Regions from separate parts of the Homo sapiens genome. Here all the other regions are linked to region 3. The links come from fine-mapping of genetic effects on gene expression. A gene starts in region 3. Each other region holds a variant in brackets. All regions are shown on one strand. Distances are from middle to middle. Region 1 overlaps FGF22 (fibroblast growth factor 22). Region 2 has its middle 8.1 kb from the start of LINC01836. Region 3 holds the start of FSTL3 (follistatin like 3).

Evidence for each region. PIP is the estimated chance that this variant, and not a neighbour inherited with it, causes the effect.
Region 1: its variant is fine-mapped to the expression of FSTL3 in whole blood (INTERVAL, PIP 0.94).
Region 2: its variant is fine-mapped to the expression of FSTL3 in T cells (TOPMed, PIP 0.90).

What each region holds. Positions count from the first base shown.
Region 1 is chr19:640,656-643,406 of GRCh38, reverse strand. It overlaps FGF22 (fibroblast growth factor 22), which reads right to left. Exons shown (of 3, transcript NM_020637.2): 2 at 69-172. Among named protein-coding and RNA genes, the nearest start is that of FGF22, 2.2 kb to the right of the region's middle. The variant G/A (reference allele first, on the strand shown) is at 1,587.
Region 2 is chr19:773,280-776,030 of GRCh38, reverse strand. No RefSeq gene overlaps it. Among named protein-coding and RNA genes, the nearest start is that of LINC01836, 8.1 kb to the left of the region's middle. The variant T/C (reference allele first, on the strand shown) is at 1,273.
Region 3 is chr19:675,191-677,941 of GRCh38, reverse strand. It overlaps FSTL3 (follistatin like 3), which reads right to left and starts at 1,550. Exons shown (of 5, transcript NM_005860.3): 1 at 1,416-1,550; 2 at 1-150. The coding sequence starts at 1,518.

The DNA.
Region 1 (2,751 bases), 35 kb after region 3:
CGGGCGGGGGTGAGGCCGGCCCACCCTCCCCACCCTGCCCGCGCCGCCCAGCCCTGCCCGGCACTCACCGACCCGTAGAGGCGGCCCCGGCGGTTCATGGCCACGTAGAAGCCTGAGGACACTGCTTTGATGACCACGACGCCCACGTGTACAGAGCGGATCTCCAGGATGCCTGGGGGAGGCGGGGGTCGGGGAGGGCCTTGCTGGCTCACCCCCAGCACCGCTGCTGTCCGCTGTGCTTCGTGCAGGGCCCTCAGGACCACGACAGATACCAGGAGACCCCCGGGACCACGAGTCCCCTCCCGACCACGACGGACACTCAGGATCCCCCAGAGCCGTGACTGACACCAGGAGCCCCCCCCAGCATGTGAGGGAGGAGCAAGGAGCAGGCAGAGGGAACGGGAAGCAGGACGGCCCCCACGAGCTGGGGGAGTGCAGAGATCGATGAGGACCCCGTGGGAGGGCCAGGTCAGCGCTGTCCCTGCAGCTCAGCCCAAGAGCAGCATCTGTGTGTGTGTATGGCGGGGGGGCTCCCACACACCCAGAGGGACGGACGTCAGGGGGGCAGCAACACCACGAGGAAGGTTGGGAAAGGGTTCCTGGGATGTGGGAGTCAGAAGGGGCAGGGCCCACCCAGACCACTGATAACTGTCAATGAGCCAGCGACCAGCAGCACCCCAGGGAGCCCCCAGCCCGGCCCTCAGAGCTCACACCACCCCATATGGAGCCCCCAGCCCGGCCCTCACAGCTCACACCACCCCAGAGACCCCCCAGCCCGGCCCTCAGAGCTCACACCACCCCAGGGAGCCCCCAGCCCGGCCCTCACAGCTCACACCACCCCAGGGACCCCCCAGCCCGGCCCTCACAGCTCACACCACCCCATATGGAGCCCCCAGCCCGGCCCTCACAGCTCACACCACCCCATATGGAGCCCCCAGCCCGGCCCTCACAGCTCACACCACCCCAGAGACCCCCCAGCCCGGCCCTCACAGCTCACACCACCCCAGGGACCCCCCAGCCCGGCCCTCACAGCTCACACCACCCCATATGGAGCCCCCAGCCCGGCCCTCACAGCTCACACCACCCCATATGGAGCCCCCAGCCCGGCCCTCACAGCTCACACCACCCCATATGGAGCCCCCAGCCCGGCCCTCACAGCTCACACCACCCCATATGGAGCCCCCAGCCCGGCCCTCACAGCTCAGCTGCCCGGCCCACGCACAGTCACTGGGACTCCGGACTGGGACTCTGGACTGGAGGCCGGGCTGGCAGTGGCCTAGAGTGGGACACCGGTGGTTTATGGGACACCACAGACATGCTTGAGCGCCGACTGTATGCCAGCTGTCCTACCAAGCCCGCTCAGCAGCCCACGTTGCAGAGGGGCCAGTTGAGGCCTGGGAGTGGCAGAGCCAGATTTGGACGCCATCGTCTGTGGGTAGCCCTGGGTGAGCCCTGCCCCACCCTGAGCTGAAGTGTCTTGTCCAGCAAGGACCCTGGGGCCAGCCGCCACTCCTCACCCACACTCGCTCACCCCGGCCTGGGTGTCTGCCGCTTTGTCAGCTGGGTGTACAGTTCCCTGCGTGCCC[G/A]GCCAGCTCCCTGTCAAAGTGAAAGCTCCTCGGGGCAGCCTCCCAGCCCGACCTTCCAGGACACACAGGAACGTCTTTGAGGTGGTTGTTCTGGGGCGTCTGTGTCACGATCTCCCCTGGCCCCTTCCTCGCCCTGCACCTCCCCTCCCCTGGCAAGGTGCCTCCCAACACCGCCGTTCACTGTTCTGCGCACCCACCTGCACCCTTGTTCACGTCATTCACTGTTCTTTTTTTTTTTTTTTTTTTGAGACGGAGTCTCGCTCTGTCGCCCAGGGTGGAGGGCAGTGGCGCGATCTCAGCTCACTGCAAGCTCCACCTCCCGGCTTCACGTCATTCTCCTGCCTCAGCCTCCCGAGTAGCTGGGACTACAGGCGCCCGCCACCACACCCGGCTAATTTTTGTATTTTTGGTAGAGACGGGGTTTCACCGTGTTAGCCGGGATGGTCTCGATCTCCTGACCTCGTGATCTGCCCGCCTCGGCCTCCCAAAGTGCTGGGATTACCGACGTGAGCCACTGCACCCGGCCAACCGTTCACTGTTCTGTGCACCCACCTGCGCCCTTGTTCACGTGTCTAACTGCTGCGCGCCTCTGCTCTGGGAGCCCCAGGAGGGTGGGCGTCTCTGTCACCACTGGGTCCCCCATGCGGAGCACAGCACCCACAAGGTGCCCGATTAGTGACCAGCGAATGCACGAAGGGCAGGAGAGCCCTCAGCTAGCCCTCACCCCCATCACCGTCCAGCTGGGGAAACCGAGGCTTGGAGAGAGGCAGAGACTGTTCCAGGTCAGGCAGCGGAGCCAGGCCTCTGCCCCGGCCCGAGGCCACCCCGCCTGGCCATGCCCGCCATGGATGGACCGGCCCAGCCAGTCCCCTGTCCGCCCTCGTCACGTGCGGCCTAATGAGGGCCTTGGCGCCCAGATGAAAGCGGTGGGAAGGACAGGGGGTGATTACCTGCCCTGATGGTGGTGATTCAGGCGGCAGCCAGCGGGCCCGGGCCCCCTTCCCAGTGCCCCCCGCCCGGCGGGGACACCGACTCCCCTGGCCTCCAGGTACCCACATCCCCTGCTGTGCCCAGCCTCTCCTCTTGCTCCTGACATTCCACAAACACTGAGGGCCTACCTCAGTGTGCTCGGCAGACCCTGGGGACAGAGACGCCCGCTCCGTGA
Region 2 (2,751 bases), 98 kb before region 3:
AGCCTCCCGGGTTCAAGAGATTCTCCAGCCTCAGCCTCCCGAGTAGCTGGGACTACAGGTGCCCGCAACCACGCCTGGCTAATTTTTGTATTTTTAGTAGAGACGGGGGTTTCACCATGTTAGCCAGGATGGTCTCAATCTCCTGACCTCGTGATCCGCCCACCTCGGCCTCCCAAAGTGCTGGGATGACAGGCGTGAGCCACCGCGCCTGGCCTCAGCGTATTTATTTATTTATTTATTTGAGAAAGTGGGTCGTTCTGTTGTCCAGGCTGGAGAGCAGTGGTGCAATCATAGCTCACTGCAGCCTCAACCTCCTGGGCTCAAACAGTCCTCCCGCCTCGGCCTCCCGAGTAGCTGGGATCACAGGCACCTGCCACCACGCCGGGCTAATTTTTGGGTTTTTCATTACAGGGTTTTGCTATGTTTCCCAGGCTGATCTTGAACTCCTTACCTCAGGCGATCTTCCCACTGCGGCCTCCCAAAGTGTTGGGATTACAGGCATGAGCCACCACTTCTGGCCCCCTGTTTTCCATTATTTTGAGACCCCCCCAAATATTTAATGCCCAGATAAGTGGTGACCCGCCCCCCCCCGTGGACACACACTGCTGGCTGCCCTTCCAGCACTCACTGACCCCAGGGAAGGCTTGGGAGGCCCCAGAAGTGGATCCCGGGGAGGGGACTTGGGCAGCCCCCAGCTCAGGCCACCAGCATGGTCTGGGGGAGTGTCTGTAGGGGTACAGTCCTCACTCTGGACTGCTCCGCCACATGCATGAGTCACCTGTCCAGGCAGCACCCAGAGTGGACAAAACATAAACCATGGCCTCCCCATCTCCAGCACCATCTGTCTGGCTTAGCAGGAAACAGGGTTTGCAACCTCAAATTGAGGGTTCCAGGCCAAACCCTCAGATTTGCTCAGAAATATCCTAACATGGGCCGGGCGCGGTGGCTCACGCCTGTAATCCCAGCACTTTAGGGGACCAAGGCGGGCGGATCATGAGGTCAGGAGATCAAGACCATCCTGGGTAACACGGTGAAACCCCGTCTCTACTAAAAATACAAAAAATTAGCTGGGCGTGGTGGTGGGCACCTGTAATTCCAGCTACTTGGGAGGCTGAGGCAGGAGATGGCATGAACCTGGGAGGCGGAGCTTGTAGTGAGCCGAGATGGCTCCGCTGCACTCCAGCCTGGGTGACAGAGCGAGACTCTCAAAAAAAAAAAAAAAGAAAAGAAAAGAAAAGAAAAAAAGAAATATCCTAACATGGCCAGGCACAG[T/C]GGCTCATGCCTGTAATCCCAGAACTTTGGGATGCCAAGGCAGGCGGATCTCGAAGTTAGGAGTTCAAGACCAGCCTGGCCAACATGGTGAAACCTGGTCTCTACTAAACATACACAAAATTAGCTGGGCGTGGTGGCACCCACCTGTAATCCCAGCTACTCAGGAGGCCGAGGCAGAAGAGACGCTTGAGCCTGGGAGAGATTGTCCCACTGCATTCTAACCTGGGTGATAGAGTGAGACTCCATCTAAAAAAAAAAAAATTGCATTTTATTTTGAACAAATGAGTTTGTCCAAAGACACCATTAAGAGACTCAAAAGGGGCCAGGCACTGTGGCTCATGCCTGTAATCCCAGCACTTTGGGAGGCCGAGGCGGGTGGATCATGAGGTCAGGAGTTCAAGACCAGCCTGGCCAACATGGTGAAACCCCGTATCTACTAAAAATACAAAAATTAGCCGGGTGTGGTGGCAGGCGCCTCAGAAAAAAAAAAAAAAAAAAAAAAAAAGAAGAAGACTCAAAAGGAAAGTGCCAGACTGGGAGAAGGTACTAGCTAGCAGTGCATAATGTAATCAAGGACTCAGGTCCAGAATATATAAAGAACTCCCACAAATCAACAGGAAAATAAACAAACCAATTTGTTTTTGTTTTTTTTTTTTTTTTTGAGATGGAGTCTCGCTCTGTCACCCAGGCTGGAGTGCAGTGGCAGGATCTCGGCTCACTGCAACCTCTGCCTCCCAGGTTCAAGCGATTCCCCTGCCTCAGCCTCCTGAGTAGCTGGGATTACAGGCGCCCGTCACCATGCCCAGCTAATTTTTTGTATTTTAGTAGAGACGAGGTTTCACCATGTTGGTCAGGATGGTCTCAATCTCCTGACCTTGTGATCCGCCTGCCTTGGCCTCCCAAAGTGTTGGGATTACAGGCATGAGCCACTGCGCCCTTATTTTTTATTTTGTTTTGAGATGGAGTTTTGCTCTTATTGCTGAGGCTGGAGTGAAGTGGTACAATCTTGGCTCACTGCAACCTCCGCCTCCCGGGTTCAAGCGATTCTCCTGCCTCAGCCTCCCGAGTAGCTGGGACTACAGGCATGTGCCATGGCACCCGGCCCTAATTTTTGTATTTTTAGTAGAGACAAGGTTTCACCATGTTGGCCAGGCTGGTCTCAAACTGCTCACCTCAGGTGATCTGCCTGCCTTGGCCTCCCAAAGTGCTGGGATTACAGGCCTGAGCCACCTGTGAATTTATTGAGGGTGTTGGGAAATACCAGCCACAGAGGAGGATGCCTTGGTCACCTACTCAGGCCAGGATCACCCACCCCCTCTCCGGTGAGAGGCTGAGCACAGAGAGGTGGAGAAACTCACCCATAGCACCGAGGCCATCAGGGGACAGCCTGAGCTCTAACCTGCATCCAGGGGCCCTGGAGCTGGTCTCTCCCTGGCAGATCCCCAGAGCCGGCGCTATGCTTTAGGAGCCAGGAGCCAG
Region 3 (2,751 bases):
CGAGGAGGTTGATCTTGTTCCCCGGGTGGGTGAGGTTGGACCAGGCGGTGTCAATGTTGCCGGAGGCACAGCACTCGGCCCGGGTGACATCAGTCTGGAGCACCAGGCTGCAGGTGGCCTCCTGGCCCTGCTGGAGCCAGCAAACACCACCTGCGGGCCGGGGAACGGGGTGCTCTCCTGGGCCACTCCTGACACCCAGCTTCTGGCCCGCCCACAGATGCATGCAGGTGGTGCTGAGTAGTTACGCACGGAATGATCTACCCCCACCCAGGAAGAAGGGGCAGAAAACCACATGGGTGTCCCCACCCTGGCTCCAGAACCCTGGAAATGTCTCCTCCCCTCTGAGCTCCACGTGCCCCCCCCCACAGCCTCACCACCAACCCCCACCCACCCCAGGAGGTCCCTTCCCGTACCCTCCAAGCCCCCAGGCCAGGGGCTGGCACCCTGCCCAACCCCTCAAACACCACCAAACACCAGGCACTGGGCATGTCAGGGTCAGCAGGCCCTGGAGCCGCTTCTCCCGCCTCTGCCCTCTGTCTAGACAGCACCCGAGGGCGAGGGCACGCGGAGCCCCGCGCCTGGCAGCCCCCCCACCGCCTGGCCCGCCTCTTACTCACTCCAACTTGGGAACATTCCCCTTGCATGAGCTCACTGTCTCCCCAGGGACGTGGCCTTCGGGGAGGGGGCTCTGCTCTCCCTTTGGCGCAGGGCTGGGGTGGGGTGGGGCTGCAGGGATGGGGGGTGGGGAGCCAGAGAGCCCCCCATTTCTTCCCCCGTCCCTGGGGGCAGGAACGGCCACAGCCCCCATCCCAGAGCGCTTGCTGGTTCACAGACACTGCCAGGGACCAGCTTGTGGAACGCAGCACCTTGGCACCCATCATAGGAGGGGAAACTGAGGCCAGGAGTGGGGCCGTCTCCTGCCTGGCACCTCCCGGCAAGTCCCAGGTGTGAGACTCCATGCCCCGTCTACCCAGGACCCGGGAAAGCTCTCAGCCCCAGCTGGAGGGCCTGGCTCCCGACACCCAGCACTACCTCTCGGCACCAGGACCGACCCGGACGGTCGCGGCTAGAACCCTGGCTTTGCCTGCTACAGGCTGTGTGACCCTGAGCCTCAGTTTCCCCATCTGGAAGACGGAGATGAAGAGAGCTCCGGCACTATCGGGATGGCACAGGTTCAGGGAGGGGAGAGGTAGACACTAAGCGCTCAATAAATGTCAGCGGTCATTGTGATTAGAAACCTCTGCTCTGCTGACCTCTTGGTGACCCTCCTTCAGACCTTCCCGGCTCCAGCTTGCGCCGGACACCGCCCTCGCCCCCGCCGCCGCCGCCGCGCCCCCCGACGTCCCCCCGGCCGCATTCCGCGCAGCCCCACGTGGGTGGCCCGCCCCGCCCGCCCCTCTGGCCGCCCCACTCACCGGGCGCGGGGTTCCCCGAGCCCATGGAGCTCACGAAGCCCACGGCCCAAGCCAGGGCCCCCCAGGGCAGAGGCCAGAGTGGCCCTGGCGCCCCGGGACGCATGGCGAACGCAGAGACGGCAGCGGCACCGACTTCCCAGCGCGCGGCCGGCGCTCCCTATAAAGGTCCCGCGGGCCGCGGGCGGGGCGGGGCGCGGGGCGGGGCGCGGCGCGGGAGTGGCGGGGGCGAGGCCGTGTCCCGCGCGGGGTGGGCAGGCGCCGGGCCCGGCCGCTGCGGGGGGCAGTTGGGGGCGAGCGCCCGGGTCCCCTTCCGGAGCCAGAGAATGCATTTGGGGAGATGTGGCTGGACCCAGGGCGGAACCGGGACAGGGGTGTGGGTTCGAGGTGGTGGCAGCCTTTTGGGTGGATCGAGGGGCCGTCTCCAGGAATTAAAGTGGGTTTGGGGGTCTTCAGTTTCAGGGGTGGCGGTGAGGTAACGGGGACCCAAGAGGAGCACGTCTGTGGATCCCTGCATCCCGTTTCTGTGATTTGCATGTGGTCACTTTCATGGTCCAAGTGTGGTCTGAGCCCCCCAACCCGGCCTCCTTGTTCCCGACCCGCCCCACACACCCAAAACCTCAGCTGGATATGGTTCCCTGCTCACAGCGCGGGCCGCGCACCCGTCCACCTGGCCGCTGGAGCCGGCCTGTGGGTGGGGAGTGGTTGGGTGTGGGACAGAACGGGGTGCGGCCGGGACAGACCCAGAGACACAGCTCCTTCCAGCATCTCGGACAACAGCAGGCCTCGCCCAGCCACGGCCCCCAGGGAGGCCACTGCGTGTGTGTGTGTGTGTGTGTGTGTGTGTGCGCGCGCACGCCTGGCCTTTGTCCTGGGCCCCTGGGCAGCTCTGCCCCATCAGCCCTCCAAGCCTTTGCAGACATTCCCCCAGATCACCTCAACAAGAATGTTTACTAGGTTTTTTCCTCTCCCTCCAAGATTCAGCAAACACTGTTTCCAGCAGAGGCGTTTCCAACAATGTATGACAGCGACATCTGCGTGGGCCTGGAGGCGCTGCGCCCGAGGGGGCTTTCGTGCAGCCAGACACATTTCCTACTCTGGAGCTGATTCTGTCATGGGGGCCTCCAGATTTGTCAGGCGCCCTTGGCGAGCGCAGGGGAGCCCCTCTGTTCCTGCTTCTAGGGCATCAGTGAACATCTCTTTTGGCCAGAGGGACCCTGCGGGGTGCTGGGGTGCCACGGTGACCAAGGCAGACCCCATCACACCCTCACCGAGCTCCTGGTTTGGACAACAAAATGCAGAGACAAATTAATCTATAACTTCAAGGAGTGGTAAATGC